2 separate regions of the Homo sapiens genome follow, and region 1 is linked to region 2. The links come from fine-mapping of genetic effects on gene expression. A gene starts in region 2. The other region holds a variant in brackets. All regions are shown on one strand. Distances are between the middles of the regions. Region 1 has its middle 190 kb from the start of LRRIQ3. Region 2 holds the start of TNNI3K (TNNI3 interacting kinase).

Evidence for each region. PIP is the estimated chance that this variant, and not a neighbour inherited with it, causes the effect. A credible set is the group of variants that fine-mapping cannot tell apart.
Region 1: its variant is the best candidate, but not a certain one, in a credible set for the expression of TNNI3K in T cells (TOPMed, PIP 0.64).

Annotation. Positions count from the first base shown.
Region 1 is chr1:74,006,019-74,011,415 of GRCh38, reverse strand. No RefSeq gene overlaps it. Among named protein-coding and RNA genes, the nearest start is that of LRRIQ3, 190 kb to the left of the region's middle. The variant TTTAATG/G (reference allele first, on the strand shown) is at 3,187.
Region 2 is chr1:74,233,060-74,238,456 of GRCh38, reverse strand. TNNI3K (TNNI3 interacting kinase) reads right to left here and starts at 3,070. Exons shown (of 25, transcript NM_015978.3): 1 at 2,966-3,070; 2 at 2,247-2,355. The coding sequence starts at 3,005. It overlaps FPGT-TNNI3K (FPGT-TNNI3K readthrough), which reads right to left. Exons shown (of 27, transcript NM_001112808.3): 4 at 2,247-2,355.

The sequences.
Region 1 (5,397 bases), 230 kb after region 2:
CATTAACCCTTCTCCTTCCAGCTTTTCTGGCCCCACACCTCAGATTCATCATCTGTCTAAAATATAAATCTGTACCTACACTCCTTAGCTAAAAAATAAACCCTTAATGCCTCCCCCATTGCTTTCAAGTTAAAAACCCAAGCAACTTAGCATCTGAGAGAAAGCCCTTTAAAATTTATTTTCTTCGTCTGCCTTCAGTCGCATCTCCACCAGGTATTTACTTTTTGTTCTAGTCACATACAGCCACTCTGAACATGGTGCTGCATTAGCCTGGAGTATTCTGCACTCACAAGCTACTGGTTTTGGCGTACCTATATTCATAATTAAGAGGCTGCCTCCATATAACAAACTTGGAAATTTTTCTGTCTCACTCCACCTTCCTACTTCCATTTGAGCCTGGTGTCCCTCCCACGTATGCATAGGGCCCTCTACATCTCTGTCATTATTTTTTATCATATAGTAATATATTTTCCCATTGACTTTCTTTTCACAGACTTTAAGGTTCTTGAGGGTACAGACCTGCCTTCTTATCATTTTCTCATCAGTAAGCAACGCAGTACTTGATATATAATGAGAACTTGGTAAGCATTTGTTGAATCAGTAAATAGCAATGATGCTCAGGAGAGTGAGAAGTGACTTTAGATATAAAGACTTACTGAATATAAAATCAGGTATGATGCAAACAACTTAGCACACATCGTCAGACACAGAAGCTGCTCAGTAAACGCTAGTTCTCTTTCCCTTGAATTGCCTTCTAAAAATTGGTTGCAATTACATAGATGAAGGTGAGAAAGGGGGGCTTTATAGATTGAAGAGAGTGTGTCAGTCTTAGCTTGGTAAGGTATTTTGGGAATAAAGGTTGTTTATTAGAAAATTTAGGGTTTAAAGAATGTGTGAGGAGTTGAAGGGGAAATGCCTGAGAGACAGCTGGAGGACTGGGCAACCATCACTCACTACTGCAGACTGAAGCACAGGTGGAGACACTGGAGCACAAGCACTCCAGGAAGCCTGAGCACCCCGCGCGGGAGAACAACGGAGTTTCAGTTTCACTTTCACCTTCCAAATGGTGTTAATGTTCCCCCAAAGGCCAACTGTACCAGCACTCCTGGAAAAGCGCATCCAGGAAAATGTAGTTCGCAGCGCTCAGGAAGTTGTGCTCTGCCACTGGTGCTGGTGGTGGCACTGGTGATACTTGTGTTGCACAGTTGATAACAGCCTAAAACAGGGAGAAAGGTGCAAAAAAAAAGGATAATAGTGTGCTGAGGTCAGAGGGTAAATATAGGCAGTATAACAGAAAAAAAAATAATTATTCAGAATAGATTAGCCAGGTGAAGCAATTCCAGAGCTTGTGTGGGAAAATGGGAAAAACTTGGACTTTGGACTTGGAATAATTTGTTCTTAATCCATACTCTACCACTATCAGCTATATACCCTGACCAAACACTTAATTTGTCTAAGCCTGAGTTACCTCATGCCGAAAACAGGGCCCAACCCTGCATGCAGGGTTGTCAGGAGGAATAAGTGAGACTGCATGTAAAACTCCAGGGTTTGGCATGCACTAGGCATTCTGTAAAATTAACTACCATGTTATTGTTATAGCTGCTTGGGTCTTTCATGACCCTTTTGAAATTTATTGTGCCTAATATTATTAGCAATGGAATCCTAATGAATGTTTTTTGAACAAAGAAATGAACACATTTCTCTATAATTAATTTGGTCCTTGAGCCTGTTAAATATGCAAAAAGTGTTTCTCTAGTGTACCATATGTTTCCATGGGTGTGTATTATATAAATCTCATTAGATTGCATGTGCATTGAAGGCAGAAGCAAATGCCCCTCTTCTTATATCCTTTTACAGTGTCTAATGCAATCTGATACTGTGTACACAGTTGATAATTGATGAGTGTTGTTAACAGCACCAACTGTATCAATCTCTGTCTCATATCAGCTGTAATAAGTTTCCCAAGCTGGAAATGAGAAAAAATAGAGAAAGAATAACATTTTCTGTATTTGAAATGAATTGGCCTACTATGAAAAATGGCTAAAACACGACTGGTGTGGTGGCTCAAGCCTGTAATCCCAGCACTCTGTGAGGCCGAGGCAGGTGGATCACAAGGTCAGGAGATCAAGACCATCCTAGCCAACATGGTGAAACCCCGTCTCTACTAATACAAAATTTTGCTAAATACAAAAATTTGCTGGGCATGGTGGTGGGCACCTGTAGTTCCAGCTACTCAGGAGGCTGAGGAAGGAGAATCACTTGAACTTGGAAGGTGGAGGTTGCAGTGGGCTGAGATTGCGCCACTGCACTCCAGGCTACGTGACAGAGTGAGACACTGTCTCAAAAAAAAGAAAAGAAAAATAGCTAAAACAGGTACAGGTAAGTACAGGTAAAAAATATGAAATGAATCGAAAAGGCAAAACTCGAGTAAACATAAAAATAACTTGTATTCTTTGCATTTAACCTTAGCTAAATCGGGAGGCTAAAAATTATCACAAGAACATTATTTCAGCTGACCTTGTCATACTGGAAATTGTAAAAGTATCTATGAAAATTTTCATTTTTAGGTCACAGCAGTATATTTTTCATACACTTAAAAAAATCTATACTCTTCTTCTTCTTCTTCTTCTTGTTTCTTGCTCTTGTCACCCAGGCTAAAGTGGAATGGCAAGATCTCGGCTCACTGCAACATCTGCCTCCTGGGTTCAAGCAATTCTACTGCCTCAGCCTCCCGAGTAGCTGGAATTACATAATTACATAATTACAGGCACCAGCCACCATGCCTGGCTAAGTTTTTGCATTTTTAGTAGGGACAGGGGTTACACCATGTTGGCCAGGCTGCTCTTGAACTCCTGACCTCAGGTGCTCCGCCTGCCTCAGCCTCCCAAAGTGCTGGGATTACAGGCGTGAGCCACCAAGCTCGGCCAAAAATCAACAATCTTATTGTTAAAAGTAAATCTGTAAGACTCAGATAATGATCTGTTTTACAATCAATTGTTTTCTCTCTATTGTCTACAAAACTAGATCATTCAGAGGGGTCATATTTGTCTTGACTGTTTGGCATAATTGCCCAAATATCCAGAGACATTTGCTCAGCATTCTAAGTAATTTTCTAATAAAATATGAAGGCATATTTAAAATGGAAAAACCAACAACATCATGATATACTGGTTTAAGACTTTTAAT[TTTAATG/G]ATACGGAAAAAGCTTTTTATGAATAAGGAATTGATTTGTTTGAAAATTGTGCAAAAATGGAGAAAGGAAAAGATGGGAATCTGGAGCTACTAATCCTAAGAGTGACTAAATCTAAGATTAGTCACTACTACAATGCACTGCATTTTTTTATTCCTTCATCAAGTGTGTAAAGATGGATATATGTCAAAGATTCTGCTTCATTCATTTCCAGTATCTTCAGCCATAGTTGATTTACTTTAATCTTGGCACATCGTCATCGAACCAGTAGACTAATAGCTCTTACGGATTTAATTGACTTATTTAGGTGATAGGTCCATCTATATCAGAGCTACAGAAATAAAGAAGGCATAGGATTACTTCCCAGCAAAGCAGAAAAGAGGAGATACAACATAAAAACATATATTTTTAAAATGTCCACTGAATCAGATGCATGGCCTAAAAAACCTTAAAAATACTTATTAATTTTACTTTTAATATTTAGTCACTTTAAAAATCCTGTGTGAATTTAAAAGAAACAGCACATGCAGATCAAAGCTTTCATGGAATCTGCTCTGCACAGCAGGTGATGGATAGAGGGGCCCACTGAGGCAGGTGAGGCTCTCTGCAGTTATAAGAAATGTAATTTGGAAAGCAACAAACATATTCCTCCTCAATAGATCTATTTTCTCCCTTGATCTATGAAGTTTGCAACTCATTGATTACAAACAAAATTTCAATTAAGATTTGAAGATTGACTGCCATTAACTGCTGAAGAAAATAACATGGTAGATGCAATTATGGGTTCAACTCCTAGTCCACTACTTGTTGAGTGTAGCTCCCAGCACTTTTCAATAAACTTTCTAGGCTGCATACTCAGAGTATGGAAAATATGTCTGGTATAAAATATGTTTTTTTGAATGACAATAAGTGAAGAAGCTCCTCATGTGTAAGGTGACTATTGCATTCCTCATGGATTTATTGAGGGAGTTAAAGTAGGTCATGTTTACTACAGGTTTTAATCACGGTGTGCCTCATAGTTAGCACTTAGTAAATGGTGGTTATTTTCATGATTAGGGTGGTGATCTTCTTCATCCAGGAATTCTCTCAAATTTTTCTTTAAAAAAACACGATCAAACTAATGTGTTCACTGAATTCGTCTGACAAATTACAAATACTGCTTTACATGGATACCCATTACCAGTTCAGCCATCATCTAAGTACTTACTCTTACATGTAATATTGTCAGATTTATGGAGCGCAGGATTTCTGTTGATATAAAGGCTAATAAAAAGCCTGACAGGTTTCTACCATTTTTCCCAAATGAAAAATTGACCTAAGGGTGTTACTAATTCACCCTATCAACAAAAAATAATAAGAGAAATAAAATGGAAGCTTTTGGAACCAGTGGAACTTGAGCTTCACATTCCCAAATTAACAACCCAATAACTATGTATGGCTTACTAAAAAGTCCAGCTCCAGAGAATCCTTAAGACCATTGTTTTCATTTTATTTTAGGATTTGATACTTAAAGATGTGTCATGAGGACGCTGTCTCTCTCTGGTATTATCATGTCCAGCATGCAAGCTGTTCATTCAGCCTTTGTCACCCCTGCCAGGTCTTTGGAAGCCATTGAGAAGTGTGTCTTTTGCCATTGTTTCTCAAATAATCTGATCGGTGTCTTCTTTCTATTTAATTTAACTAATCTTATCAAGAAAATGAAGCAGTAGCAATTTTTTCTTCTCTGATATTCCAAAAACTTATTAAGACAAGTTTTGGTGGCAATACATTCTGCTTCCTATTATAGTTATTTGTGAATGACTTAACATTCCTTCATTGTATAACCACATCTTATTATCAAAAAATGTAGTTCTATACACATGCGAAAATATGTGCAGTGTGGTATAGTTTGCTGTATATATGTGGTATATATACAGTAAAGGCTCAATAAGGTTTTTTAATTGAATTACCACCTGATGATCTTCAGATTGCACTTCCCTGGAGGATATTTCCCTCTCAGACTCAGTCAGTTCCTTGTTTTGTTATTTCATAACACCCTTTATTTCCTCATAGGTTTTTCATAATGTTAACAAATAATTAATTAATTATAATAATTCACTTAATAACTGTTTAAATAAATTCTTGAAAGAAATATCTGTACCTGTCTTAATGATCACTATTCCTACAGCTAACATAGAACTTGTAAGGCACTTAGGGGATATTTTATA
Region 2 (5,397 bases):
ATCCAATCAATCATGATAATAGAAATTTCCAACTACTCAATGCTTACTATGGGTTGGGCCCTGTACTTAGTATTTAATTTACCTCATTTTGAAAATATCCTGTGAGGTGATTATTATTCACCTCATTTTATAGATGAAAATGAGGATTAAGGAGATTAAAAAACATATCCATGGATATACAGCTTATAAATAGAAGAAGCTGTATTTAAAACCATGTTTGTATGACTCCAAAATTCTTACATTGATTCACATAGCTTTCTTACTCAAGTCAGATAATATGGTGAAGACATTATTTTTTCTCACTTTTCCTAAACTTTCTATGGTACTCATTCATTCTTGCCTACACACCTTTACTTAACTATGCTTTTTATCTACAATGATTCCAAAAATCAATGAATAAATCAGGACCTAAATCTTGTTTTTGTAAGCAGGGTATGGTAGGAAGAGCGCTATCTATGGAGTCAGGCAGACCTTGACACAAATCACATTCCAGAATTTACTGACCATGTGACTTGACAACTCCCACTGCCTTGTCTCTAATCCTTAGTTTATCATCCACCGGAGTTAATATTATTCGGCACACATGAAATGACAACAATCTACATATGACTATAGATTAAATAATGTCTTGTATTTGATGTATCCAGAACAACACTTGAATACGAGCTGGCACTCAACAAATTCTGGACTGTAAGCTCCCTGACACAGATTCCTGCATCTCACCCCCAATGCTAATCAGAAAAAAGAAGGTCACATTTGTTGCATTTAGTAGAAACACAGGAAAAGTCCATTATAGCAGTTGTCAAAACAGCTTGTAGTTGTCGATGTGGTATCAGAAAGAACCTACATTTTAAATCCATTGTTAATCCTAATATTCAGGTTTGGATACATCTAGTTTAAGCTAGCCTTCACCTATGTGCTCAATACTTTCTAAATTAAAAAATAATACTAAATAACTGAGGCTTTGACCTTTAAAAGTTGAGGAAAATCTCTTCAATGTAATCATATTTCATTTAGCATATTTATTTAAGTCAATAAGAGCTAGATGTTTATGATTAATTTCTATATTCATACTTTTCCAACAAAACAAATACATATTTATAATTCTACTGTACTAACATGCCAGTCATATTTCTACAGGAATTTCAAATGTAGTTCCATATCTCAACATGTGATACTACTTGCAAAAGTCAGATCAGTGGTATCTCATCACAAGTGTCAGTGTTGAGTTCATCATCCTGGGCCAAACTATAAAGAGAACCAACTACTTTTTGAACCATAAGTTGAACACTTGTGAAAGCCTTGTTACATCCATTGACGAATTTCATATAAACTATATTATACATGGGTGATTTTATTTGCCAATTATGTGATATTTATATGTTTACTATATCTAAAATTTTATTTTAAAGATGTGTCATTTGGTCATTGCTTTACACTTGTTTTCTAAGTAAAATAGAGGGAGTTCTTTGCCATGAGTGCATTACATAACACAGCTATAAATGAACATGGCTAATTGGCCTATATGGAACTTTTCCTTAGTCAGGCAGGTAACTTTCTTGACCCTCTAATGGGCATCTAGTTTCTCAATGTCAGATTCAATTTAACCAGAAGGCTTTTTGTGTATATAAGGGTCTTGCTCCTCTTTTCTGAACATTTTGTGTCTTCCAAGGTTGTGACACTTAGATTATTTTTCTCTTGTTATCATGGAACAAAATCTACTGAAATCCTGAAGGCAATATTATATGTTGTTATATGATTGTTCAGGGGCAGAATGATACTCAGTTCCATTAAGGGACAGCCTTTCAATGTCAAGAGACCAGAGGGTTTGTTAAAATTGGACTTACCGTCATAGTTCAAAGAGAACAATGTGGCCAATATGCGACCACTATGTGGGAAGAAAAATCTTGCTTTTCATTGCCGGCATGGTTTACAAGAATGATCTAATTCCTGAGAAGATTACTGAGATCAACAATAGCTTGCATTCAAAGGCTAGCCTTTAGGTTTTTATTTTTAAACTTTAATGATGGCAGATTACAATTTATATTTTAAGGAGGTGAGATGTTATGTTTGCATTTTGAGAGCTATATGAGTGGTCAAAGAGAGATAATCTGACATCCTAAGGCTTAGAACATGACTGCTTATGTCTGAGGTTCTACGGGTTTAAAAAATATACAGATACTTTAAAAAATAAGGTGAATACTGAAGACACTTATACAAAGAAATAATGACTCTTACAACTTTACCCAAATATATTCCTTAGTTCTGTCAGTTCTTTTTCCTTGATCTGCAGGTCATCTTCTAATCTTTCTATTGTGATAACATATGATTCACTGACTTTTTTCTTCCATTCATCTAGTAAAGAAGAACAAATGAGATTGATTCATAGTTGTGTTTTGCAAAATGTAGACACAGATCATAACATACAAGTAATCAAAACTGTTTTTTATTCTAGATTCTACAATACTTAATTTAAATTACTGATTGTGTGTTTAAAATGCAGATGTTTATATTTAAAATGCAATCATATTGAATTGTAGTAATGAAGAACCCATTCGATATTGGATAATATATTTACATAGAAAAATATATTTGACTTATTTCATTTGATTTTATTGCATTTTAATTATAGCAATCTCTAGTTGCAAGACGGTTTTTAGTTTTTAAATACTAGATACTTAAGATATAATTCTAAAATCCCTACATTCAGCAATATTCCAAATTTTTTTCTGTAACATTATACCAAGGAACTAAAATAATATTTTTGTAAGAAATTTCTTGTTTCCTATAAAGATCTTCAGAAAAAAATAATTTGAGTTCAGATAGTTTTTCAAAGACTTTCACAAAACATGCTGCCTTATCTTCCGTATACAAATTAACACATATTCCAATGAGTTGTTAGTTATCAGTAACTATAATTGAACCATATTACACTTAAGGAAATAAGAATAATTAGAATAATTACCAGTACAAGTTTGGGTTGGTCTAGATTTATAATTTCCCATTTATTATAAGTTTCTTCCTTTCTCCAGGGCAGTTCTTCAAGTTATAAGATTCCAAGTTCAAGTGCAGTGACAGTCCAGTTGAAAAATACTTTGATAGTCTGGCTAAAAATAAGCCCAACTGCCAAATGGAATGTCATGCAACAATGATAAAGAACAAAATCGTGTGTGCTTTCGAGGGTGAAATCATAAAGGGAACTAATCAGTCTGTTTAAAAGAACTGTATCAAAAATAAATAGCAAATGTTTCAATAGGATTATTTGCTTCCATCAATTATCTACCCATACATACTTTCATGGACCATTTATTTAACAGATAAATCTAGAAAATGATTCAGTTACATCCGAAGTTCACAAAAGAGCTGTTAAAACTACATAGACCTGTTTTCAAGATCATTTTCTCCTAAGCCAAAATAATGGCAGTTGGTAAAGAGTGGTAATAGAATGTGTCTACATACATAAATAAATAATAAAAATTCATTACCTCTAGCATATAACTAATAGAAATGAATGCAGGTTTGGCCTGTATAAGAGCTACATAATTATGTTTGTATGAAGAAATTCTCAACATAGACCAAGATTTATACTATTGTGGATTATTCCGACCATAAGAATCATAGATCAGAATGTAAAACATTAAGTTCTACAAATAGCAATTCGTAAAATAATAAATGACAAGAACAGTAAGATTAAGAATAAGAAAATTGAGCATTTGCTATGTGTCAGACCCTAGTTTACATGCTTTACATATATCTCATTATTTAATCTCATACATACAGTGCTGCTAGGTAGATATTATTCACAAATTATGGATGAGAAAACACAAAGTTACTAGTAAGTTGGAAGTCTGGAATCAGTTCTGACCATGTGACTCTAATATCCAAGCTAGATATTATTGATTTGTCTTCCAGAATTTCTCTTTCATGCACCTTCCATTTACTTTATTAGGACATTTCTCTTTGTATGCATATTGTATGCCTATTTCTACTGATATAAAGAACCCAGTCTATGATGGAGAATAAATGGGAAACCCAGAAAGAAAACATTAAATTTTTCACTATATATTTATTTCAGATAATCTTCTTATACCTAGAAAGTATAAATTTTAATCTTCAGATTCACATCCAGAGGATATAGCTTTAACTTAACAGATACAGATTTCATATTTTCTATAGTTAAATGTTCAAACAACTCTCTTTTTGAATAAATGATTAGACAAAGTTAGGACTCACCATATATTTTTGCTCAGCAAAAGTAATAGAAGTTTCAGAGGTAAGGCTTCCAGACTGATGAGATATAGTTGGCGCATCAGGTGTCTGGCTTCATAGACACTTTTTGTCCTCATCTGGACATATTCTCCTTTTCCCTTCTTATCAGTACATGCCTACCACAGCTGTTGATACTTGCTATACTGCAGTGGCATCTGGTTACCTTGGTCCATACACTCTACATTCTCCTTGTTTGAAAACCAGACATCTTCAGTTCCACCAGCTTTCTCTAAGCACTTCTGTGACCCCCATTTTCTCAGTTTGGAAAGTCTTTGTTTTGTCCAGGGACCTTCCTGCTTAATCTCTTCTTCCTTATCTTGAAGACCATACTGGATAGCTTTCTTTAAAAGACTTGCAATCTCCCAGGGCTACACTTTAGGAAATAATGCACCAGCTCTTTCTCCTCTCAGAGTTTCTTAAAATAATCATGGTTTCTATACTCTGAATCCAGAAGGACAAAGATGGGAGCCTTCTAGAGGACAACTAAATATATTTTTCTTGATCTCTTTTCTTATTTCTAATATCTCGGATCTTCCATCCGTGTGTGTGTGTGTACATGTATGTTTTCCACATATGGAGGAAAAATTAGCTCTTACATCATCTTCCACTGTGTTTCTAATTTCCTGCTTGGGACACAAGTCTGATGTACTGCTTTTTAGAATTTTTCCTTTTGATTTTCAAGAATACTTTTATTCTCTTAAAAAGCCTAGGTTTTACAAATGAAAGCTTTGGCTTTCAAAGGTGTGATTTCTGCGATGAGTTTGAAAATCCAATCAGCAACTCAGTTGAATTCTCCCACATTCTAATGCAATACATTTTGCTGGAAATAAAATGAAACGATAGCAATATAAGAAATGCAGAAAATTACTCAAAATATTACCCAAAATATTAACCACTATTGAACTATAACAGTTTCCTGGTTTGAAAGAAACAATATTTATCTCTAAGCCCTTCTTAAGAATGTGGATCTAGGTAATGGTTTGAGGTACTAGAGTAATTTTTTCTGGGTACCTTCAGCCTGATGAAGAAATGCTGGAAATGTAAATGGTCCAGGATAATATCCTTGCATTCCTTTTCCAAAGAATGTTGGAAAGAAACAACATAGAATCAAAAAATATTTTCCCTAAT